Regions from separate parts of the Homo sapiens genome. Here regions 1, 2, 3, 4 and 5 are each reported to be linked to region 6. Evidence: microRNA targets listed by miRTarBase, many of them from high-throughput screens and not tested one by one. Region 6 holds a microRNA gene; each other region holds the end of a gene's coding sequence.

Region 1 (4,084 bases), not on the chromosome of region 6:
CCGTGGCGGACTCTGGGACCAACCATGACTCCAGACTGTGGTCCCTGGAGAGGGAACTGGATGACCTCAAGAGGCTCTCCAAGGACAAAGACCTCGAGATCGACGAGCTGCAGAAGCGCCTGGGCTCCGTGGCCGTCAAGCGGGAGCAGCGGGAGAACCACCTGCGGCGCTCCATCGTAGTCATCCACCCTGACACAGGCCGCGAGCTGTCCCCGGAGGAAGCCCACCGTGCCGGGCTCATTGACTGGAACATGTTCGTGAAACTCAGAAGCCAGGAGTGCGACTGGGAGGAGATCTCAGTGAAGGGTCCCAATGGGGAGTCCTCAGTGATACACGACAGGAAGTCTGGCAAGAAGTTCTCCATCGAAGAGGCCCTGCAGAGTGGCAGGCTGACCCCTGCTCAGTATGACCGCTATGTCAACAAGGATATGTCCATCCAGGAGCTGGCGGTCTTGGTATCTGGGCAGAAGTAGGCACAGCTCTTGCAACTCTTCGTAACGGCAGACGCTGGCCCTCTCCTACGACGCAGTGACCTCCTTGGTGTCGTCCTCTCCCTTGCCCTGGTGCAGGCCAAGCATTTTATACATACCCTCGCTGCCAGGCTGCTCAGAGTCCCGCCCACATATGAGACAGGCACTGGCTGAAGACAGGCAACTCTCGTCCCAACCATCATTCACCCTGAGTGACGTACTTCATCCTCCAATGACTGGACAACTGCGATGCCTTTTCCTCCCTTTTCCTGTACACTCCCAGCAACAAACTCCTCATGATAACTGCACACAATCTGAAAACCACTGAAGGACAAGCCAACCACAGCAGCCAAGCCCACTCCTTGCAGCATGGGTACTGGTGGCACACCAGACAGTGACACTGCCCCACAAAGGCCTGGGCCCGTGGGGGCTGCTGCCTGGCATGACATCTCTCCAGATTTCTGGCTTAAAACCAACTTTCCATCCGAGAAGCCTCCTCAGTAGTTACTCTGCTCATGAGACAGATCTGGGCTCCAAGCCAGGAAAGGTGAACAGAAACCACAAGTGTCCAGCCCTCGGTGCTGGAGTGGACGTTAATTGTCAGCCACCAGACTGTCCCGGCACCTACAGAGAATGTTTCACAGTTCTGGCATTTAAATCCTTTGATAGTGGATTGTGCTGCTGTTAGCCTTAGTTTCAGTGCTTTACAAGTCTCGCTTATTATCTCACTGGTATTTAGGTATACAAAACAGTTGATTATTCACCACGCCAATATCTGGGTCTCTGTATCTCATGTAGAACATAAGAAAATGGGAACTAATAGGGAAATTTATTTATAGCATGAAAATAAACCTGGTGGCTGGAGTCTGCTTGTACGGTCCACATGTTTCTTCTTTTGCATGCAAGGCTTACTCCCCCGCCCCCCCCCCTTGGCTTTCAGCCAAAATGGATATTCCATCTGTAACAGCTCCTACAGGAAGAACTACTTACTTCCACATGGTAGAAAGAAAAGAGTGAGAAAAAATGTTTTGGAAACCTTGAAACAATTTATTGAATTGCTTTATACAAGATTAACAATCTCCACACCACCCCTAACACCAACATAGTCGCTGCACAAAAGCCACAGCCCCTCTCACACCTAAGAAACGGTCACGCCCGGTAAGTGCTCAGAGACTTTCGCTGCGCCAGGGAAACCCCTGCAGCCCCCAGACCCCGAGGCTGCTCTGCCCCACCCTCTGCTGCGGCCTCGCCTGTAGGTCTGCCTTGCCATGGCTGTTCAGTCATTCGCTCTTTCATTACCACAAATAAAGCATAAACAAGGAAAAGAAATCTCAAACTCCCCATCAAAGAAACGTTTCCCTGAGGCAAGAGGCATCACTAGATTCCTAAAAATGAGGGTATTCTGCTCCAGCTGCACGCGCAATGGTACGTGGGGAGGAGGGAGCACCAAAGGGAAAGGAAGGAGGGCCTGGGACCCGGGTGTTTATGGGCAGAGAAGCCTGGAGAGTCCCTGCTCAGCCTCCACTGCCGGCCTCTGCTTGGCTTTGAGCTCAGCAATACAAATCTCTTCTTTGGCTCTTTTGCTACTACCTAAGACTACTCTGTAAACAAACTGGAAATCCAAGTTGCAAAAAATATATATAACAAAGGGATAAGGAATCCACTTAGCCCAATGTGAAACACGGATTGGTTCTTATGTAAAAAAAGGAGACAGAGCAGAGGCCGGGCCAAAGGGCGGACAGAGGTCTTGCTCCTTGGGAAACCGGGAAGGCCAGCAAACCTCTGAATGAAGGATGAGTTACTGGGCGCTGTACCCTGGGAGTCAGGAGCCAAGAGCGGTCCGTTTTCCCACAGGTGTATGTGCTGAGGACACCGTATACTCTCAACGTGCCTGATCACTTAGCTGGAGCAGTCAGTTCAGACTCACCTTGTGGCACAGACCTCACAAGACAGGCAAGTGCCCTCAAATCCTTGTGAAACAGCCACTGGTTGAGTGGTGACTTAGGAGCTCTGCAGTAACTGTCCTAGTCTCTCTGATCCACTCTCCAAGCTCTTCTGCACATCACCCTTCAGTCGACACATAACCCCACTGCCTGGAGAGCCCCAGGACTTCAAGGCCTATTTCTACCCGGCAGACACTTCACAGAGGCCTGCTTCTGCCGCACTGCCTAAGAATGATTCCTAAGAATACAAACTGGAATGTCTATCTGTGACTTGGGACCCCTGGTATCCTTGACCCTCAGAGAGATGAAGGGCTCTGGGCTCTGCAGTCCACCTCCACGAACTCTGGAAAAACAAAATGGGAGCCCTGGCTATACTGGGACTTGGAATTTGGGGGCCCAGACAACCTTCTAGTCAGGACGGCACAGATAATGATGTGCAAGTGTAAAAAACTCAAAACTGGCTTTCTCTTCAATACAGACATATCTTTAAAAAGGTCTTCGTCTCAGATCCATTCAGAGGGCTGAATGGACATGTGTTGTCGAATTCTGCTCCACCATAAAGGCACTGGAATTATGTCTTCCTATAATATGATGTGTGAAGAACAGTCCCCTTCTATCCAATGCATTTAATGGTAATGATGAAAACTGAGCCCAAAATAGGTGTCTGTAAAAATCCTATCATAATTGTTGAATCTACAAAGGTCTTTTCTCTAAAAGAGCTTCATTGTCATGTTCCGAGGAGAAACTGGCCCCCACAGTGAGCACACCCTAGGTGTTCTTAGTATTTCGCAGGGACAGTGCAGGTCTCCCAGCTGTGGCTCTGGCCTGAGTTTTGTCCGCTTTGAGCACACAGCCTGGGGATGGGGCGGCACTGTGACCATCCAGGGAGCTTACTGCAGCCAGAAGGAGCCCCTGAGCAGTGGGGTGCTCTGAGGTACTCTGACCAAATGCCAGGGGATCAGGCAGATTCACCCACAGGTGTGCCAACTGCTCTGCCACCAGAGCCTGTAAACACTGTGCCTCCCACCACGGCCCAGCGCAAGCCCCAGCCTAGAGCTGCCCCTCTAACAACCGTCTAGCGACAGAGCTGCAAGGCCCAGAGCACGGGGCAGTCTGCACCTCCTGAGCAGCAAGGGCCCGGCTCCCTCCATGGGAGGCACATCAGAAGTGCCGAGAAGCGCTCCGCTGAGAACTCACGCTCCTCCAGAAGAACACCAAGCAGCAGAAAGGGCGCAGTGAGTGTACATCCTGGGAGACCTGCACGTTCTGATTCCACCCAGACCCAAGTGGCAAGCCTTGCCTCTGAAGCGGTCACAATTTCCGTGGTACAGCAGGCCCTTTCCCGTGAAGCTGAGAAGCACCTGGAAAAGAGTAAGAAAAATTAGAACGCAAGTTTTTCATGCTCTCTGATTTCCTTAAGGCAGTAGTAACCAAACTTCAAGGGAGACACCTAAATAGCAAAAGTCCCCAAATGCTGAGTGTTCTAGAGCTCAAACAAGCCATGAGACACCAGCCAGCAGTTATTCGTGTACACTACTCCTGGCCACAGCCTGCAAGCACACTAGCACTGTGAAGGTCGGTGGTCACTCAGCACAGTGTTTCCAGAACAGCAACTCTGCTGTGCAACTTGGGCTACGTCATCTCAGGCTACAATTGCCATCCTGAGGCGAG
Region 2 (4,084 bases), not on the chromosome of region 6:
GATGATGAGGGGGGCCAAGTGTCTTACCCCTCCATGGTATGTCCTTCAGTCACCCCCAAGATTGTTCTTGAGGAAGGAGGCTCCTGAGTGCCAGCAACTTGTCAATCACGCTAATCTGATCAGGCCAGAGACTAAGTAGTCTCAGCCACATGGGGCTCGAGGGGTTCTGCTTTTGTGATTATTACCTCTTACGAGTCTGGGACATGCAGCTGGTGATCTGATTCTCCGTTATGTGCTGCTTTCCTTTCTCCAGATTTGCTCAACTTTTTTGGGGGGGGTCTCCTTAATCCCAACCCCATTAACATTCTCTCTTTCTCTTTTTTCTCCACAGCAGAAGATTTAGCACCACTATCTCCGTTCCATCTGGGCTTATATGTACTTTTATTTTTTGGTGGTGAAATTGACTGATGATTTTCCTTTTTCTTCGCTGGACTATTGTGCCAACTGCCAGGCTGCCTCCTGCCCTTACAGCCCTAAGTGGCTGCCTTCTTTCCATCAACTCCCAACTTCTTCCTGTGAAGTTTAATTGTCTCAACGCCTCCCCCTCCCCCATTCCCTCCATTTTTCTCCCAAGAAACCTGACTCAATTATTTGCATATTTTGAGAAACTGCTGCAGATTAGTTCTTTTTGCCAGTTTTCCCTGGAACTCCTGGCCTTTTGTGGAGGGGAGGGATGGAGAGAATAGGAATCTTCACTAGAAGCCGTGGGAAGAATTGGAAGTTACATGCTGTATATGCAATGTCCAGCAGTCTGATAAACTGACGATTCTTAATCAAGATTTTTTTCCTGATGGGGAAGGGACTTTTATTTTCTTTTAGAGAGGGGAAAGTGTGAGCTCTTCCCTTATTCCTAATGGCTATTTTTGAAGCAAAGAAGGCCAGCAACATTGGCACATGCCACCTGGCAAAGGACCCTTGAGTAAGTGAAGGTCTCCTAAAACTGGGATTAAGAAACCTTGCTCTCCTCATCTCCAAGGCAGGGACCATCAAGAACCTACAGACTCCATCTCTTCTGCAAGCCTCATGCCAACCCTGGGCTATTGCTGCTGCCCCTTAAACACAGGCTGTCCTTAACCCACCTCTCCTGCCCTGTGATATGTCTGCTGAGTTGGCCTGGCCATTTCCAAGAGGCTGTAGAAAGGGGAGAATGTCAAGGAAGACTTTTGGTAGAGAAGGAGCAGAAAGATGTGTTTTTGGGAAGAAGAAGACCTCTAGGAGGAGCTAGTAGGAATGTACATGAAGCAATTAGTCTGAAACTGGCTTCCCCACTCCCCCGTTTCTCCTTTTCCTATCCTTATAGGCCTGTCCCTTGCCTCTGCCCTGGATTGGTTGGCAAACTAAAGGACTTGATGTACATAACTCCTGTCCCTTTTCCCTTACAAGGTGGGGATTGCCCCTGGCTTTGCCTCTTCTTTGTGCCTTTGGCCTGGGGTGCATCTCCTCCCGCCCTTCCATGTGCCTTTCTTTGCCTCTGCAGTCTCATTTCTCATAATTTTGCAAATTATATTTTGTTGCTTTCTTACCTACTATTGGCCCTAAATAGCAGAAAGAAGAGAAGTGACCGAGAGAACCTCAGATTCTTCATTGAGGATTGGTATAGCCATGATTTCAGTCATAGCAAGCTTTTGCTCAACAGCATATGGGTGGGATTTTGCAAAAATCCTATTCTGATGAATCTCAAAGTAAGGCTGGTAAGAGAAGTGAGTGGTGTGACTCTTACTCCTTAGGTGCCCAGAATTTACCATCATCTCTGAAGGAGTTACAGGGAAGTGGTCTCCCCAATTCTCCCCTCCCTCCAGTATTGCCCCCTCTCACTTTAGCATATATTAATTAGCAGGTTGGGCTAGAGAAATCAGCTGCTATGCGGGTTGATTATTATTATTATTTCTAATCCTTTTCCTTATTTGCCTTCTACTCCCCTTAATCTAATCTAAAAGCTCTGTTCCATGCAACTGGAGTTCCTTATCCCTCTCTTCCCCTTCCCTTATATATTGAGGCTATGGGGTAGGAGAAAAGTGCACAACCCACCACCCCCTTTACTCGTGCATTAAAATTTCTTATTTACCCTTTTCCCCCTTCCCATTTCTTCCCACTTTCATCTACCTTTTCTGGCAAAAAGGAGCCTTTTGCTCTCTGTGACCCTAAGAGCACACTGCACAGGGAAAATTGCCCCATCCAGACCTGGCTCCACTCTTGATCTCTCTTGTCCTCTTCTGCTCTTTTCCTGGTGCTCTTTTTTCTCGGTGGGGTGTGGGTAATAGAACAGCCGTGGGCTTTTGGGGACCTTTAACTTTTTTTTCTCTCTTTTGTTTATAAAAAACACTAAACATTCAATTCCAGAGAACCAAAAATCCCACCTTCCCACCGAACACTACTAAGGGGCTTGTGTTCTGCTCCATACCTTTTCTCTTTTCTTTCTGTCTTGTTAATGCTTTTAAAAACAAATGAGTTTTTTATATAAATAAAGTTTTTAAAGTGTGTATGTGGGGGGTCTGTGTCATTTCTTCACTTCAAGCTGTTATTTCTTCCCTGCTTTGCATCTTTGTTACTTCCTTATGTATCAGTGTCCTTTCCAGAGCAACCAGAAGGAGGTTATACCAGGATTTATTTTGAGCTCAGCCCCAACTCTTTATCAAGCAACATTCTTGTTAACTATATGTGAAACATTTTTTCTTCTGAAGATTCTTAAAAATTGAATGTGGCTGAAGTTGAACATGGGAGCTTATTGCTAATTTAGAGATAGGAAACTGAAGCATAAAGAATTAATGACTTACTTTAATTACTGGAATTCTTCTGCAACATTTGACAAAACTAACCTTGAATAAGGCCCACTGTAATACGTAGCTCTCTTAAATATAACACTTAGGACTAGAAGATTAGAAACTACCAATCCCAACTACGTAATAGGAAAATGTAGGATCAAAAGGCCCATGTATATAAGTACTGACCACTGGGCCATAATGTTGCTTCTCAGGCTATATGCAGTCCTTTAGTCAGAAGTCAATAGGCCTATTTATTAATATTTTACAGACCATATTACCTGGATTACCAGGGACTATCTTTGCTGCAGAGATCAAGGGTTAAGATCTATGGGAAGATACTTATTTTTCTGAGGTCCTTATGTCCTGTCATATAATTAAAGACTCAAGAGAATTTATGTGAAATGCTTTCTGTATGCCCAAATCTTTAGATTAAAATTATATAGCTGCTCCTGATGATGGTCCTGTCTTGTTTTATTGAACTAGGACTTGGGTATGAAAACTTTCATGGGCTAGTGAGACCAGGAAATCAACTAGCTTTTAAAGCTTGATTTGTGTCTAACAATTGTAGTGTTAGATTAGAGGTTGAAGTACAAAGCCAAAAAGCTATTAAGAGTTTACTTTCCAAAGAGTTTTGATAGCCCTGCTTGAGATGATTTTTATCTAAATAGAAAAGCCTGGCTGCTTGTCAGCAACACTTTATTTCCCTGTTATGTTCTTATCCTTTGGCATTGAGCTAGATACAAACCCTACTCTTCTCTCTTCCTTCTGGATTGGTCCATTTGTTTATCTCATTCAATAAATATTTGCCAAGCACCTCCTATATGCTAAGCGTTGTGTCAAGGTTAGGTTTAGATTAGAGAGTGAAACAGATGGATCTTTTCTCATAGATTGCAATCCATGAGAATCCTCTATAGCTAAGATCTATGATCAGACGAGATCGTGTGCGTTCAGGGTGATATGGCCATAGACAAGATCTATGATCTTAAAAACACTTCTCTCTGTGCCATATCTAAATACAATGAGATGTTACACAGAATGATGTGTAAAGGCCCTATCTCACAAGTTTCTTGACACTGATGTACTTTGTGACAGAGGTCAAAGCTGGGACCTCACTTGGCCACTTTTTTTTTTTTAGACAGAGTCTTGCTCTGTCACTCAGGGGCACAATCTCGGCTCACTGCAACCTCAGCCTCCTGGGTTCAAGCGATTCTTCTGCCTCAGCCTCCCGAGTAGCTGGGATTACAGGTGTGTACCACCACGCCTGGCTAATTTTGTATTTTTAGTAGAGACAGGATTTCACCATGTTGGCCAGGCTGGTCTCA
Region 3 (4,084 bases), not on the chromosome of region 6:
CCGGCTGCGGTTCCCGCGCCCCCGGGCCGAGCGCAGGCCGCCGAGGGCCGCGGGGGTGGCTGGCGGCGGAGCGGCCCGCGGGCCGGGGCATGCTGGCGGCGGCCACCGGCGGCCGGCGCGCTCCGCTAGGTGGGCTCGGCCCCGCCGCCCCTCCCTCCCCTAGGCGCCGCCGCCGCCGCCGCGCTTCGCTCAGCTCCCGCCGCTCCGCTGCTGCGCCGGGCGGCCGGGGGCGGGGGGCGGAGCAGGGCGCATGTCTCCGCCGGGGCCTCCGCACCGCCCCTCGGCCCGCCCCGCCCCCGCCCGCTCAGAGGCGCGGCCGTCTGTCGGTCTGTCAGCCCGTCCGTCCTTCCGTCAGTCCGTCCGTACGCAGCCCACCCGTGTCCCCGCGTCCGCCCGCGGCCGGCCCGAGCCTCCCTGGGCTGGTGGCGCCTCCTGACAGCGCCGCGCCCCTGGCTCCCAGCTCGGCTCGGTGCACACTCCGGACGCCGCCTTCGGACGCCGGGGCAAGACCCAGGCCCGGAGCTCTGGGGGCCCGGGGGCCAGAGGGAGCTGGGGCAGGAATGGACACTGAGAACCTGGGGCCAGGGCTGGGGCTCAGGGAGACCTTCCTGGAGGAAGCCGCATCTAAGATGAACAATCGGGGCGGGGCGTGGAGAGGACAAGGGACGCATGGCCAGCGGCTTCTAGGAACCGGGAATCCAGTCTGAAGCAGGGGCAGCGAGGGGCAAGGTTGGGCCAGTTACGGATTCACGCTGCTCCCCGGGCCTGGGGGGTCCACTGAGGGAATAAAGTGCACGGGCCACCGGGCTGCCGAGTGGTCCCCGCCACCCCCACAGGCTCAGAAATTGTTCTCTCTGAAACTCTGAGCACCACCGCCCAGCCGGGAGAGGCCAGGGTCTGCAGCCCAGCGCCTGAAGCCTTCTCCTACTCCCCTCCTCCCCTCCTCCCATTCTTCCCGCCCCTCCGCCCCTCCCTCCCAAGCCCTCATGCTATCACCACTCCTCATAGAGCACAGGCTGTCACCCACAGACTGACAGCCTCAGCTGGCCCCATGCAGGCGGAAAGCCTCCTGCTTCTTGATGGGGGCCCTGGAGAGGACGCCTCCTGAGGATCGTGCCTGTCTTTTCTAGAAAGCACCTGACCACACACACAATGGGCACAAGGCCTCTGGGGCTGCCTGGCATAGTGTCCTTCCGTGCCTCTGGGACACATCCATGACTAGGCACCCCTGTGTCTGGAGGAAACTAGGCACCCGACCAGGAGGAGACCCAAACCAATTGCAGCCAAAACGGATGCTTGGAGCTTGCCCAGTCCGGGCAGGGCTGCTCCACAGCCTGCACCTGCCTAAACCGTCCCCACACCCCAGGTCCCTGAGCAGCTTTTAGGGGGCCCAGGATGGGTCTTAGGGTCCGTCCCATGAGACAAAAAGAGGAGTGTCTGTAGAGAAAGGCCCCGCAATAACGTGTGGGGCTGAGCAAGGGGGAATCTGGGGCCATGCACACCTATACTCCCTGTGGTTTCTCGGGCAGCCAGGGCCCTCAGTGTCCCCAGTGAGCCCTCTGTGGACAGGTTGGCTCCCCCTCCAGGTGGTCCTGGTTATAAATAGGCCACCAGCAGTGGGAGGCTGGCACAGGGCAGCTGTAATCAAGGGTGGTGTTTCTAAGTGTCTCGCCTGTGACTCGGGGTGAAACGGTAGAAACGCCACACTTAATTACATGGCCACCGAGAGCCATGCCGCTTAGAAACACCACGGTTAAGATTGCACACACAGCCATGGAGAGCCATGCCTCTGTCTGGGCCTGGCTCCCCTCTGCCAGCCCAGCTGACCCACTGCCTGGACCAGTGCCTCTGCCCGGCCTCAGCTGGCTCTAGGGCAGGTGGGAGATGGCCTCTGATGGCCGCCCCGGGGCCCTGGCTTATTTCGTGCTGTGCTGGGTTCTGCTGCAAAGTGCCCGGTGCCCCTGGGAGGCGGTTTTCAGGTGCCTGGTTTGCCCAAAGCCACACGGATGAGTGGCTGAGCCAGGACTGAACTAGGGAGTCTGATGCGGGGCCCAACTTCAAGTGAAGGGTGTGGGTGCTTTGGGGAACTGGTCCCCTCAGTGAGCCCCTGGGCTCAGGCACTGCTGTGGCCAGCCCTGGGCCTTCTGCTAGCTGGGAAGGGTGGCCTCCTCATTGCTCTGAACCCAGGGCACCATTCTGGCATGGGTCATGGGTGGAGCTGGGGGCCGAGGCTGGCTGAGGCCAGCCCCGGGGGGCCAAGGGGCATGGTGGCGTGGCAGAAGCTTCATGTGGCTGAGCTTGTCCCTCCCACCTCCAACCCCCTCCCAGACAGGAAATAACCCCGTCAGCCGTGACTGGGGCCCGGGACAGATTCCCAAGCTCTTGGCTGGTGTTTCTGCACATCTGGAGCCGAGTCCTCGCTCTCCAGGGGCCAGAGGGAGCCTTGTGCGAGGCCGCAGCTGTTGACGGGCCAGTCTTCTCCAGGCGGCAGGACAGATGTTGGGGCTTCAGGGACAGACTGAATTGGGAACATTCTCCCAGATGCCACTTCTGGGTGTGCTTGATTGGAGGGCCTCCTTTTCAGCCATGGATGCAGGTGGGGTCCTGGTCCCTGTAGTGGCCTTGGCTGGGCCAGATGCACAGATCAACCCTGCTACACCGATACCCTCACCACACACGTGCTCACAGATATGCAGACAGATGCACACGCACATGCACAGATATGTCAGTGACACGTATGCCCACAGCTTCACACCAACGGCACTGACACACATTCGTGCTGTCCCTCAGACCCCTGCCCTATAAGCCATCCCAGCAGACTCCTGCCTGAGTGGCTGGGGGAGTTTCCACGTCAGGCACAGAGTCCTGGCGCCAGCTGGGGGGCTCCTTCAGACAGGATTTTGGGGTGTCTAGGCAGTTTCTAGCAAGAGGCTGGGTCAGGGTGGGGCTCCCACACGCTGAGCCAGGCCACATTTGGCTCTTCCCACACCATCACCTCGCTGAGTCTTTCCCAGCAGCCCCACCCTGTTCATAGGAAAGCCACACAGGCTCAGAGCCGGCATCCTCTGCAAGCCAGACAGGGGGGTTGTGGGGTGCTGGCACTCCCACCAGGCAGCGTGGCCCTGAGCCCACATCCTCCCAGCATCTGGGCTGCCTATGAGGTCCAGGGAGCCAGGGTGTCTGGGGCCAGGACACCAAACCAGGGACCCACGGGAAATGGGCATTCATAGCCAGCAAGTCACCAGCCGGACACCAATCGGTGTGGCTGTGCCTGAGGTTCTAGGGTACATGCAGGTGCTGGTGCTGGGAGGGCTGAGACTGTCCACGGGAGCCCCAATGTCCCACACCCCCTGGGAAAGCAGCCCCCCCAAGACAAATGACCACCCAGGACACGTGGGTCCAGCCAAGCAGCAGCTTTATTAGTGGTGCTGGGTTCTTCCCATACCCTACAGCGTGCTCGGAAGCATTCCCGAGGGTTTCTGCCCAACGCCTCCCGGCGCTCGGGACAACACTGTGTAGCATTGATACTGGAATGATATAAATAAAGCTTTGGTGTGTAGGTTTGCAGGAGAGAGTACAGGTTAACACTGTGATACGAAAACTTCAGACAACACCAGCTCTCAATGTGAATTGGGTTTTTGGCCAAGGGGGGAACTTCTAAGTGACTGGACACTGGGCCCGTTGCCATGGCTACTCGAGGCACCAGTGGCAGGAGGAGGGAGTCTAGGGCTGAGGCTCCGCGTGGCCCTGTCGCTTCGCCTTCATCTGCAGGTACCGCCCTTTGCCTTCCTCAAAGCGCTTCTTCTCGTCCTCGGTCTCGGGCTGTGGACCACACACAGAGACAGGCAGGTTAGGGTCACTGCAGAACCAGTGCCGTGGCCTTGTGACCTGGCCTGGGGCCCTGCCCCCCACCCGTGGGATCTGCCCCACCCCTGGTGCATGCTGAGTACCACGCCTCGGCCCCGCTGGCCTCCTGGGACTGCCGGGTAGCCCAGGCATGGGGCTCATGTCCCACCTCGCTGATGGGCCTATTGACTGGGCTGGGTATGTTCAGCCAAGATGCTTTGAGGGGCCGCAGGAGCCA
Region 4 (4,084 bases), not on the chromosome of region 6:
CATTGAGCAGGCTCATCATTTACAGCTAAGTGAATAGAGTCCTATATACAGTCCTGTACCTACCAACAGATACCATTGCTTTCCTGGGCACTGTCCTAGATCTCTGCTGGAGATTTGCTAGATATCTTTAGAATGAGATATAATTTATGACATTTGCCATTGAGAAACAATTTAATACCAAATATACAAAGCACCTAGCTTCCAGCCAGTGAATTTCAAAATTTTTAAGCATATTTTCTCTAAGTGGATGGATATATACATTTTTAAAAATAAGCCTAAATGTTTTACTCCCAATACATCATTCAAGAGCCTTTTTTTTTTTTTTCAATGGAGTCTGGCTCTGTTGCCCAGACTGGAGTGCAGTGGCACAATCTCAGCTCACTGCAATCTCAAAAGGCTTTTCTTTATGGTACTACAGAATTTCTATAGGTAACTTACTTCACAATATGCAAGAGATATTAGTCATTAGATGGTTTTTATATTAAGGATTATATACAGCCAATGGCTGACTAAGGCAATGAATACTGACTTAATGACTAGAAATTTGCCTGGCTTAAAATTTACTTTATAATGCACCTATTGACCTTAAACTTTTAGAGTTAAAGAGTTTCAAGTATTTTGACCAAAAATTGTAACTTGGCTAGGTTCTGTACATGTCACTTTATCATAAAAGTTCTCCTTCTCTTCGATTAGTATAACACTTAGCAGACAGAAACATCTTTACATTCCCTAGCACTATCAGGCTTTTGAGTTATAAATGGTGGCAAAGCTACGGGAAAACAGCAACTTTTAACATAAGAGTAATTATTGATGATGTATACATCTCGAATGCCCTCCTGGAACTTGTTTTGGTTTGGAAACCATCAAAAATGTTACTAGAAAGTGACATTTATGTTCTGATGAGCAACTCTAAGAAGGATATTGAATCAACTTCTGTTCTCATAAAAAATTAAATTTTTTTTCAAGAATTAACTCCTCTCCCTGGTGGCAGGAATAGCTGCCTAAACAACACTGACTCCTTGGAAAGCACCTAGAATGCATTATCCTGCCTGCCTATTCTCTTGCCTTCATAGTTATGCCTTCAGAAACTCTATGCCAAAATTCACTTATTTATTCTGCCCAACAAATAACACCACTGCATCCCTTACTCACTTCAGTGATTGTGTTATGCTCAAGAACATTAAGACTTGTGGTTTGGGACACAAATCGGCAAGCCACAAGGACTGCATATCTGAGCCTAGAAGAAAATGGTGGCCCCACAACACAGTAACTTGGTTGCAATGACCAAATTCAGACAGAAACCATAGTTTTAAATCTTTGGGATTAACAACAACAAAAAAGATAAAAAGCAAAACTGTCTCAAGAAGATACAGAACATCTAAACAGGCCTGTAACAAGAAGTATGATTTAGTCATTTATAAACTTCCCCAAAAGAAAAGCCCAGACCCAGAGGTATCTGTCAATATCTTTTCCTAGAACATTCCCCAAATCCTTACCATGAAGATATACAGTAGACAATCCGTTGAACATGGGTTTTAACCACTTGGCTCCACTGTTATACAGATTTTTTTTTACTATTATTATTTTGGAGATGGAGTCTCACTGTGTTGCCCAGGCTGGAATGCTGGTGGCACTGTCTTGGCTAACTGCAATCTCCGCCTGCCGGGTTCAAGTGATTCTCCTGTCTCAGCCTCCTGAGTAGCTGGGATTACAAGCGCCTGCCACCACGCCCAGCTAGTTTTTTGTATTTTTAGTAGAGATGAGGTTTCACCATGTTGGCCAGGCTGGTCTGGAACTCCTGACCTTGTGATCCGCCTGCCTCGGCCTCCCACAGTGGTGGGATTACAGGCGTGAGCCACTGCACGCAGCCCAGATATTTTCAATAAATATATTGGAAAAATTTTTGGAGATCTGAAACAATGAGAAAAGTTTCAGATGAAAAAAATTAGGAAAAAAGTAGTTATATCATGAATGCACAAAATATATGTAGATACTAGACTATTTTATCATTTACTGCCATAAAATACACGCAAATCTATTATCAACATTAACACACACAAATACAGATCATACATGGTGCAATTCACAGTTTTGGGAGAAATGTAAAATAATGTAAAGATGCAGTATTAAATCATAGCTGCATAAAATGAACTGTAATACACAGTATGTTACTGAAATAATTTCACAGCCACCTCCTGTTGCTATGCAGTGAGCTCAAGTGTTGTGCGTATGCACTTAAAATGCTGTGACACTAATCACCTGTGCATGAACAACTCATCGCCCCAGTAAACTGCATATCACAGTGCTCCCAAAAAGCAGAGAAAAGTCATGACATTACAAGAAAAAGCTGATGCTTGATAAGTACCACAGATTGAGGTCTGCGGCTGTGGTTGCCTGCCAATCCAGACAGACAATTCATTTTATAAACAGATGACATACACTTATAGTATTGATAAACACAGTAAATATATTTTCTCTTCCTTATGATTTTCTAAGTAACATTTTCTTTTCTCTAGCTTACTTTAAGAATACAGTATACAATATATATAATACATCAGTCAGGCTCCCAGTCAATAACAGGCTACTAGTACTTAAGACTTTGGGGAATCAAAAGTTATATGCAGATTTTTGACTGTGCGGGGCGTAGGGGTGGGTCAGTGCCCCTACCACCTGCATTTTTCAAGTGTCAACTATATATATGTATGTGTACATACACATACACATACACACACACACACACACACACACACACACACACACACGAGTGTATTAATTCCTCAGAAGCCCAGCCAGGCATCTTAGCTTGGCTACTTTTTAATTAGAAACAACTATTTTATTCAGAAAAGTATAAACAGTTAGCAATTAGAATCTTCTTATATACAGACATAACTTGCAGAAGGTTAAGTCTGAGGACGCTGTTCTGGGTAATTTTTACAGTCCTTTTTAGCTCTAAGATCCATGACACTGCATTTTTATGGCCAAAGGGCAATCAATTATGCACCTGGTTGTCTCAATAGGCAGTAAAACCTAATATAAATAAATGACAAATCATCTGCCATAAAAAAATACGAAAAACTTTTGAAATGTTAATTTCAACTCCAATGAAACAAATACCTAATTAAAACAATTATTTATTCCCTGCTAGAATATAAAGGGAACAACAAGCTTGAGCTGCAAGGCTCAAGCTTTGAGAGCACAGAAAGATTTTTAAACTAATAATGCATTTTAAGTCCAAGAAATGGAGCCAGCCCATAATCTCATGTTGGAATTCCCTCAGGCAAAGCTGGAAACCACATCCTGATATCATCTGCAATGCGATCTTCTGTTATTTGGTATTTTTAAGATGACGCCAACTCTTCTGTGCTTAGTTTAGGAGTCCTTTAAAGGAAAAAGTTGAAAAAAAAAAAGATACCACATTTCAGTTCTAAGTCAACGTTAGAATCAACTTCTCCCTCTTTTTCCTCTTCCTCTTCTTCTCTTCCAAGTGGCTAGTAGCATCAGCAAAAAACATAACTTCACTTTTTGCCTCGCATTCCCTCTTGAGATAATCAAGACCAGCCATATTGAAGCCGATAACATCCTGGAGTGCAATACAAGAAATATTAAAAAATTTTCTCCCACTTCAATTCATTATAGCAGCGTATGAGAGTTAGGGTAACCAAAGCTTCAGGTGTTGTTACTTATCTTTCCCTCATTAAGAACTTTTCTTGTTTGTTTTTTCTATTCCTACTAATTCTAACAAAAACTATCTCAAATATGGATTTATCGGTGGTGGGTATTGCTAAAGACAAAGCACAGCATACTATACTATTTCTAAATCACACTAGGAATTTGCCTCATTATTTTATCTCTATACAAAGACACTTACCCGGACTTGGCTGACTTTTGAAATAGTTGTTTCCCTTAATTTTTCTATCACTGGCACAAGCATTTGATTGCTAGTGATCTGTCCAAAGTGAATCCTGATAGAAAAACAAAACACAGCCATGTTGCAGAGAGGTTCTAGCCCTACTTAACCCTTCTAGAAACAGTAAACAGACACAATATCAAAGCAACAACAAAATATACATTATAGAAATGTTTC
Region 5 (4,084 bases), not on the chromosome of region 6:
AGCAGGAAGCTTAGCGGTCCCCTAGGTAACTCTCCCAGTCACGCAGCCAGTGTGTGGTGGAGCCAGGATTTGAGCCCAGGTGGTCTAACTGTAGAGCCTGAGATCTTAGTCACAGCCTGCTTGAAGCCGAGAGTGCTGACTTGTGTCAAATGGTAGGAGGCCTGGGGAAGCATGCAGCCCCTCTAACCTGGCTTCCCCACAGGGAATGGCATTGCTGCCTTTGAGTCGGTACCCACCGCCATCTACTGCTTCCTACGCTGCATGGAGCCAGACCCTGAGATCCCTTCTGCCTTCAATAGCCTCCAAAGGACTCTCATTTATTCCATCTCACTTGGTGGGGACACAGACACCATTGCCACCATGGCTGGGGCCATTGCTGGTGCCTACTATGGGATGGATCAGGTGCCAGAGAGCTGGCAGCAAAGCTGTGAAGGCTACGAGGAGACAGACATCCTGGCCCAAAGCCTGCACCGTGTCTTCCAGAAGAGTTGATGAGGGCTACAGCTGTTGGGGCTCTGCCAGGTCCCCTGGGACCAACTACAGCTCCAATCAGAAACCCTGCGCTTCCTTGAGTGTGGCTTCCCACTTTTCCTGCATTGTGGAGCTGACTGAGTACACCGGTGAGGCTGGGGTCTCTGCAGGGGAGGTCACTGGAACAGCGAGCAAGGGACTGGTGCCTCGCTGGTGCTGGGTCTCTGGTTTGCTGCAGAGCCGTAGGACACTCCTGGCTCCTCAGTAGGACAGACAGACGCAGGCGGGTTTATTTTGGAGGGGTACTTGTGGCATTTTCCTGTATTGTCTTGGACATGGGATGTGGGGAGGTGGAAATGATGAGCAGTAGCATCATTTCTCCCTGTTGGGTTTTAGCCAGTTTGCCAGCAAGCGCATCCTAGCAGGGTCCCCGAGCAGCAGGTTGTGTGGATGAAGGGACAGGCACTTGCATCCAGCTGATCTAGGTCACACCTGGCTCTTGGCTGCCATGTGGCTTATTAACAGCTTCCAGTGGAAGTCGCAATAAACAGTTTTTGGTAAATCTCACCACTGTTTCTTGTTTCTCCTGCCCTGAATGGATTCTCCCCTGCCAGCCTGATCTCTGAAGACTAGTGCCTTTGTCTGTGCTGCACTGTCATAGAAGCTGGGGCCCCAAGGCCATGAGCTGCTGTGTTGCCAGGCACTCCAGCTGGCTGCGTGTTCAGCCAGGAAGGGCACAGCAGGCATGGTCTGGTGGCTTTTCCTGTTAGAGATCACTCAAAGTGGCCCAGGCTGCTGGGCCGAGTGCTTTGCCAGAGGCAGCGGGTAGGAACAAGCCAGATTTTTCTGTTCTCAGAGCCTGACTTCCCCAAACAGGAGCTAGGCCCAGCTGGGCCAGGAACAGGAACCCTGTAGAAGGATCCAGAGGGCCCTGCTATCATCAGACTACCAACCTTTGGGTGGGGAGGGCACCATCACGGGGCCCCGGGTGGACTGAGTGCCGTGTGCCTCCTCCTGTATCTTGGGACCAATCAAAAGCCTTTCCCTGCAAGGAAGTTTTACACAGCATGTTTTTAGAGATGGGGTCTCACTCTATTGCACAGGCGATCCTCCCACATGGGTTCCCAAGTATCTGAGACTAGCATCCATTCTGAAGAAGGGAAAATTGAAAGGGGGAAGATGCCTCCCCTCAAACTCCAGGGACATTCTCTGAGCATCCAGCCTCAGTGGCTAGCCGAGCATGTGCAGTCTGCAGCTGCCCTGCGGTTTCAGCACTCTCGGGCAGATCTGTTTTAGTGAAGATAGGGTTCTGGCTAGGCTGAGGACTCTTCAAAACACAGATTGCTTCAGGTCTGCCACCCAGACCCCCAGCGCCAGGGACAGATCTTTCGTGGCTGAGCATGGCAGGCTGTGAGCAGGTGCTTTCCGCCCAGGACAGCTCCCCCAGCCTGTCTTCAGCACTGGGCCTGACACTAGCCCAGCCCTTAGGAGCAAAGATTCATGATTTCATTCATAATTTGTATCAGATGTTGAAACTTGGCCCTCGGACTACTGAGCCAGCTGTCATGCTCCACTAGCCCTGAGAGCTTGCAGGAATATTCCAGTAAAGATTGAGCCATCGCCCCCAGCTCCAGCCACTACCTGCCTTTGGTTTCTTAAAATGCCTCCTGGCATTTGCCTGGCGCATGGCCTCAGCAGCTTACGAGCATCAGGCATTTGTGATGTGGTGGTGACAGAAATCCAGGTTAGGGAGCTGGTGAGGAGTGCATGATCCTTAAGAGCAGGCACACAAGCCCCAGAGAGCTTCCTGGACACCTTACAGAACCCAGAGGCTTGAGATACCTCTGTGTCAGTATCAGTTTCAGCACAGTGCTGTTTTATACAACAGGTTTTATTGAGGATGTGTCAATACAGTTAACATGGTTGCTTGTCTTTTCAAAAAGAAGTTCCATTTTCTTTGATTCCCAAGTGCATTTTTCCTGAATCTTCTGTGATACAGGGCACATGATAGGTATGTAGAGAGCTAAGCTTCCTATACCAAGTTAGAAGTGAAATGACTAGTGGAAAACATTTAAACTTTAATCTTAAAAAAAAAATAGGAATCAATATAAAAATGCACAAGGTAATGTCGTTTTCATAGTTAAAATCTGACATTGTTTATCAAAGCTAGTCAGTTAAGTGGACACCTGCAACTCAAATCCCATAAACATTTTAGAAACGCCAACCACCCCTCCTGAAAGGTTTGAGGAATGAAATTTGGCAGAAGCTCAGCTCTGTGAAATAGCTCCCGTTTTTTTTCTTGGGACCCTACTTAGTTCCGTGGGCTCCCATTGGGAGCTGATTAATTTCTGCCAATCAGAACCCATCCCTAACACATCAGATGATAGTGGCTTTGACCTAGGGAAGAAGAGGTTGAGCGAAGAACCCCCACCAGGTATGGTTTGAGAGTCCTTAGTTGGTTTTCTTGGGCGTTAGGTAGTAAGAAATCCACCAGGAACCCCAGCCAAAACCTTCTCAAGTGTCACTTGGGCAGATTTGGGTTATCATTCCTCCTTTTGAAGAAGTGAGCAAACAGCCTGCTTTGTTTGGAGAAGTTGTGGGCAGGGGAGGAGGGTTGGCAAGGAACCTGAAGGAACCCACTGCTCAGCCAGTCAGAAGTCAGCAGCCATCCTCCATTTTCAACATGGACCGCCTGGACACAGCCAGACTTGGAGCAGTGCAACGAGATCACAGACCGAATGACCCCAGTTCACACTTGGTACAAGGAGTGGGGCTGGCCTGGCGAGGGCCGAGCGCGAGGCCCTGCAGCTGCGGGGAAAGTGGCCATCTTTGCACGAGCAGGAATGTCCACCACTCCCAGCACTCATCTCAGCCTTATCCACTCCGCTTGACGTAGGGACTGAGGGGTTGGGAGGGGCATCCTGCCTGTTTCCTGCAGAGGAGCTCTGATCGGGGAACAGGGCAGAAACGTCCAGAGCCAACTCATTCCCAAGGGACCTGTTGGCACCCTTTCTCTCCCAGCCTTAGCCTCCTGGGCCCTAGTCCTGCTTAGAACAGGAAATTGGAACCAGAGGGTGGAAGGAGAGGAAGCCCCCACAGATGAACCCCTCTTGTACACACATACACCCACCATATGGTTCTTATTAAGGAAAAGGAAGTGGGAGCCGTCTTCATCCCCCAGCTCGCGTGCACCTTGTTCAGAGGGCCAAACGAGAGGTGCTCTGCCTTGGGGATACCTGGCTGGGGTGACAAGGATCCTCTTACAATTTTGTATTGAGAAAACCAGCCCAGCCCGCAGCAGGTGGAAGGGGAGAAAGGGAAGAGTGCTCATGTTTGCTGATGGTCGATTCTGCCTCCGCCACCATCTGCACTAGATACTTCTAGACACTTCACAGAGGTTGATCTTTCTGGCCTGTAGGTGTCCCAGGGGCCTCTGTGCTGCCCTCAAGCTAAACAGCCAGAGCTGGCGGGGGCAGCCCGGGAGAGACAGGGATGAACGTGAAGAGCTGCCTCCTGCCCCAGGTCTGTGCCCCAAGCCCTCACAAACTGCCTTCCCCATGGCTGCCACTGGAGCAGTGAAAGGGAGGTTGCCCTTTCCCAGGGCAACAGGCAC
Region 6 (4,084 bases):
AGCCCCAGCCCCTCTCTGCTCACCTCGCAGCTGGAGGATGACATCGTGGCCAAGCCCAACTACCTGAGCACCATGAAGAACTTTGCACTGCAGCAGCCTTCAGAGGACTGGATGATCCTGGAGTTCTCCCAGCTGGGCTTCATTGGTGTGCCCCTCCCCTTACCTGACGGTGCCTTTCAGTCCCACCTGCCTCTGCCATCCTCTCTCCCAGTCCCACTGTGTCCACTGTGAGCCTTTGCCCAGGTGGGCCCTGCCTGGTGTGCGTGCTACAGCCCCACCTGGCCTGTTCTCATTGCCTGTGCATCAGACATGTCTGCCCTCATCACCTGTCTGCCTCCCTGCCCCGTTATGCCCACACCTGCCTGAAGCCTGCCCCTGGGTTTGCTGTGGGACTCGGGGGCCGCTGCAGGGAGAAAGGAAGTAGGCAGAGCAGCACTGCCCACTCAGGCCCCTCCCCACCAGGTAAGATGTTCAAGTCGCTGGACCTGAGCCTGATTGTAGAGTTCATTCTCATGTTCTACCGGGACAAGCCCATCGACTGGCTCCTGGACCATATTCTGTGGGTGAAAGTCTGCAACCCCGAGAAGGATGCGGTGAGCAAGAGCTGGCGGGACTGGCAGGGGCAGGGCCAAGGGGCAGGCAGCCTCCACCCCAAACTGTGTCCCTGTCCTTGCATCTGCTCACATAGAGCACTGTCAGCTGTGGGAGGGCCCTGGTAGTCCCCAGGAGAGGCCGTGTTGAGGAAGGAGGGCTAAGCCGAGCCCTGGGGTGTTGCCCACCCTCCACAGAAGCACTGTGACCGGCAGAAAGCCAACCTGCGGATCCGCTTCAAACCGTCCCTCTTCCAGCACGTGGGCACTCACTCCTCGCTGGCTGGCAAGATCCAGAAACTGAAGGTGGGCTGCACTGCACGCTCTCCCTAGGCCGGGATCAAGGTCGGGGCCCACGCCATCACTGCTGTCCCTCCTCCGCTGCAGGACAAAGACTTTGGAAAGCAGGCGCTGCGGAAGGAGCATGTGAACCCGCCAGCAGAGGTGAGCACGAGCCTGAAGACATACCAGCACTTCACCCTGGAGAAAGCCTACCTGCGCGAGGACTTCTTCTGGGCCTTCACCCCTGCCGCGGGGGACTTCATCCGCTTCCGCTTCTTCCAACCTCTAAGACTGGAGCGGTCAGTGCCAGCACCATGGGTCTGCGATGGGGGCGGGGCTGGGTGGCCCCCAGGGTGTAGGCTTCACCGGCAAGTTATCCTCACGTTCTTCAGTTTCCGCATCTGAAGTGGGCCTCGTAATGGTAGCTACCTTGTGAGGACTAAGTCAGGCAGCCCCTAGGAGCTCAGGGATGTTTCCTGTCACCATCCTCCCAGAGGAAGGCCCTGGTCTCTTTGCACAGCCTGACAGCTGCCTGGGGGGCCCTCCTGGCGCAGGCCTGGCCTTTCTCTGCTGGGCCCTGGGTGCTGTGCTGGAACGCTGCCCCTGCAGCAGCTCACAGGCCTGCCTGGCTGCAGGTTCTTCTTCCGCAGTGGGAACATCGAGCACCCGGAGGACAAGCTCTTCAACACGTCTGTGGAGGTGCTGCCCTTCGACGTAAGTTCGGTGGGTGTGGTGTGCACTGAAGCCGGGCCTCCTGTGACCACCTGCCTCAGCCCTTGATTCTGCCCCCAGAACCCTCAGTCAGACAAGGAGGCCCTGCAGGAGGGCCGCACCGCCACCCTCCGGTACCCTCGGAGCCCCGACGGCTACCTCCAGATCGGTGGGTAGGGTTTGGGGGAGAGCGTGGGCTGGGGTTCAGGGACACCCTCTCACCACTGCCCTCCCACAGGCTCCTTCTACAAGGGAGTGGCAGAGGGAGAGGTGGACCCAGCCTTCGGCCCTCTGGAAGCACTGCGCCTCTCGATCCAGACGGACTCCCCTGTGTGGGTGATTCTGAGCGAGGTGAGGCTGGGCAGGGCCAGGCCAGGCACGGGGAGCAGCCAGGGAGACCCTGGCGGAGCTCAGAGGCCCTGCTGACCCTGGGTCCGGCTCTTCCAGATCTTCCTGAAAAAGGCCGACTAAGCTGCGGGCTTCTGAGGGTACCCTGTGGCCAGCCCTGAAGCCCACATTTCTGGGGGTGTCGTCACTGCCGTCCCCGGAGGGCCAGATACGGCCCCGCCCAAAGGGTTCTGCCTGGCGTCGGGCTTGGGCCGGCCTGGGGTCCGCCGCTGGCCCGGAGGCCCTAGGAGCTGGTGCTGCCCCCGCCCGCCGGGCCGCGGAGGAGGCAGGCGGCCCCCACACTGTGCCTGAGGCCCGGAACCGTTCGCACCCGGCCTGCCCCAGTCAGGCCGTTTTAGAAGAGCTTTTACTTGGGCGCCCGCCGTCTCTGGCGCGAACACTGGAATGCATATACTACTTTATGTGCTGTGTTTTTTATTCTTGGATACATTTGATTTTTTCACGTAAGTCCACATATACTTCTATAAGAGCGTGACTTGTAATAAAGGGTTAATGAAGTGTGTGCCTCAAATGTGAGCGCCCTGGGCATCTCCCTCTGCCCCTGCGGTTGGCTTCATTTGGTCTGTGCCCCAACATGCCAACTAAGCCTGGCACTGGGCCTCCCCAGCCAGCATCAGCAGCGACCTTTCCCTGCTAAGTCAAGGAGCCAGCCTGGCCTGCAGGCGCGGGGTCCAGCCCCTGGCTGTGCAGCTGCAGTGCCACCTCGGCGCCAGCGTACCCCCCTTCCTAGGATCAGGCCGCAAAGTCTGTCACTGGTGAAACCAGCTCAGAATCTGGGACCACAATGCCTATAGCAGGTCCCCCGAATGTCTCCCCCATGTCCAAGGCCTGCGATGAGGCCTTCCCTTAGCTCCTCAAGCTGAAGGCATTTCCCAGCCTCCTTGTTCCCCTCCGTGTGTCTCAGCTTGGTCCTCATCCTGGGTCCCCGACACTCCTCTGGCACATTAGGGTCTCCCGCTCACCTCAGGGCCTTTGCACACACTGTTGCCCCTCCTTGGAAAGCTCTCCTTTCTCCGTTTCTCCTGCATACTTGGCTAAAAGTCACTTCTTTGTTTCTGTGGGCCTCCCCTGGATCCCCAAGGCTTCTGGACATTTCCTTGAGACCGCCTGTCACTGACTCACTTCGTTCCCATGGTGCCCGCAGCTCTGCGGACCTCGGAGGGCTGCCCTGAACACCTACAGTTAACGAGGGGGATCCAGTGCTGACCAAAAGAAAAACCCCTGCCCTCACCTGGGGAGAGAGCCACAGGCTCTATCTAGTGTCAGCTGTGAAGGCCAGGGGACGAGGGACTGCGGCGGCTGAGAGTCGAGGGAAGGCCCCTGAGGAGGGGGACCGGTGAGGAGACCGCTGAGCGCTAGGAGGGTGAACCCCGGCAGGACTGGGCGGCCTTGTGACCCCGAGGCTGAGTAGGGAGTGGGGTAGGAGGTGAAGACCGGATCCAGTCCCGCCCCAGGGGGAGGGCTCGTTCCTTCGCAGCCACTCTCACGCCGCCACTAGGAAGCCCGCCCCGGGCTGCCCGGACTCGGGCTGGGCCCCTCCAGGCTCCGTAGCCCGCGGTGCGCCACCCCCGCGGACCCAGAGAACGCAGCCCGGGTCTCGGTCACTAGAACTTTAATGATAGAGACTAGGATGCGGAAGCGAGCGCCCCTCCCCGGGGCAGCTGGAGGCTCCGGCTCTTCTTTCCCGGCTCCGTCGGCCCGGGGGCCTTGGTCTCAGGCCCACGGCAGCAGCGTCCGGAGCCGTCCGAGGAGCGCGGCGCGCAGCGCGGCCGGGAGGAAGTGGGCGAGCAGGCCGAGCGCAGCCAGCGCCACCAGCAGCCAGAGGGCGCGCGCGCTCGCGTACAGCGGTGCCAGCCTGCGGGCGGCGGTCAGCGGGGAGGTGGCGCGAGGAGGCCCGCTTCTTCCCCGCCGCAACCCTGGCCCCACGGGGACTTCCTCTGGCCGCCGCCAGGGCTCGCCCACCGAATCCCCAAAGGCGCTGGGCTCCGGCCCGTCGCCCGCCCCCAGCTTCGGTCCCGCTCCCCAGGAGCCCCGCCCGCCCGCGATCTTTCCCCGGCCCCGCCCCGCTCCCCGCCCGGCCCTCACCTGAGCTG

Evidence for each region. Region 6 holds the annotated microRNA hsa-miR-1229-3p (CUCUCACCACUGCCCUCCCACAG, at 1,799-1,821, shown strand). A microRNA usually pairs through its seed, bases 2 to 8, with sites in the 3' UTR of a target mRNA and lowers its output. Matches are read on the target gene's strand: a 7mer-m8 pairs with bases 2 to 8, a 7mer-A1 pairs with bases 2 to 7 and ends in A, and an 8mer does both.
Region 1: the mRNA of PPL is a reported target of hsa-miR-1229-3p. The part of its 3' UTR that is shown has no 7-base or 8-base seed match.
Region 2: miRTarBase lists CTNND1 as a target of hsa-miR-1229-3p. The part of its 3' UTR that is shown has no 7-base or 8-base seed match.
Region 3: miRTarBase lists ACOT7 as a target of hsa-miR-1229-3p. The part of its 3' UTR that is shown has no 7-base or 8-base seed match.
Region 4: miRTarBase lists WDR3 as a target of hsa-miR-1229-3p. The part of its 3' UTR that is shown has no 7-base or 8-base seed match.
Region 5: the mRNA of ADPRS is a reported target of hsa-miR-1229-3p. The part of its 3' UTR that is shown has no 7-base or 8-base seed match.

The regions. Positions count from the first base shown.
Region 1 is chr16:4,879,773-4,883,856 of GRCh38, reverse strand. It overlaps PPL (periplakin), which reads left to right. Exons shown (of 22, transcript NM_002705.5): 22 at 1-1,350. The coding sequence ends at 473. UBN1 (ubinuclein 1) reads right to left here. Exons shown (of 18, transcript NM_001079514.3): 18 at 1,456-3,774. The coding sequence ends at 3,725. Among named protein-coding and RNA genes, the nearest start is that of UBN1, 34 kb to the right of the region's middle.
Region 2 is chr11:57,815,966-57,820,049 of GRCh38, forward strand. CTNND1 (catenin delta 1) reads left to right here. Exons shown (of 21, transcript NM_001085458.2): 20 at 1-36; 21 at 332-3,575. The coding sequence ends at 343. It overlaps TMX2-CTNND1 (TMX2-CTNND1 readthrough (NMD candidate)), which reads left to right. Exons shown (of 21, transcript NR_037646.1): 21 at 332-3,215. Among named protein-coding and RNA genes, the nearest start is that of CTNND1, 56 kb to the left of the region's middle.
Region 3 is chr1:6,260,874-6,264,957 of GRCh38, forward strand. ACOT7 (acyl-CoA thioesterase 7) reads right to left here. Exons shown (of 9, transcript NM_007274.4): 9 at 3,399-3,822. The coding sequence ends at 3,724. GPR153 (G protein-coupled receptor 153) reads right to left here and starts at 225. Exons shown (of 6, transcript NM_207370.4): 1 at 1-225. RefSeq lists a silencer at 145-464.
Region 4 is chr1:117,958,788-117,962,871 of GRCh38, reverse strand. It overlaps WDR3 (WD repeat domain 3), which reads right to left. Exons shown (of 27, transcript NM_006784.3): 26 at 3,869-3,962; 27 at 1-3,580. The coding sequence ends at 3,425. All of the region lies in intron 48 of SPAG17 (sperm associated antigen 17), which reads left to right. Among named protein-coding and RNA genes, the nearest start is that of WDR3, 31 kb to the right of the region's middle.
Region 5 is chr1:36,092,895-36,096,978 of GRCh38, forward strand. ADPRS (ADP-ribosylserine hydrolase) reads left to right here. Exons shown (of 6, transcript NM_017825.3): 6 at 203-1,038. The coding sequence ends at 492. It overlaps COL8A2 (collagen type VIII alpha 2 chain), which reads right to left. Exons shown (of 4, transcript NM_005202.4): 4 at 2,345-4,084. Among named protein-coding and RNA genes, the nearest start is that of ADPRS, 6.0 kb to the left of the region's middle.
Region 6 is chr5:179,796,015-179,800,098 of GRCh38, reverse strand. It overlaps MIR1229 (microRNA 1229), which reads left to right and starts at 1,753; the gene lies at 1,753-1,821. LTC4S (leukotriene C4 synthase) reads right to left here. Exons shown (of 5, transcript NM_145867.2): 4 at 4,077-4,084; 5 at 3,452-3,846. The coding sequence ends at 3,705. It overlaps MGAT4B (alpha-1,3-mannosyl-glycoprotein 4-beta-N-acetylglucosaminyltransferase B), which reads left to right. Exons shown (of 15, transcript NM_014275.5): 8 at 31-145; 9 at 463-593; 10 at 789-896; 11 at 978-1,171; 12 at 1,508-1,586; 13 at 1,665-1,752; 14 at 1,822-1,934; 15 at 2,031-2,489. The coding sequence ends at 2,054. RefSeq lists silencers at 3,473-3,684, 3,529-3,688, 3,709-3,758, 3,799-4,084.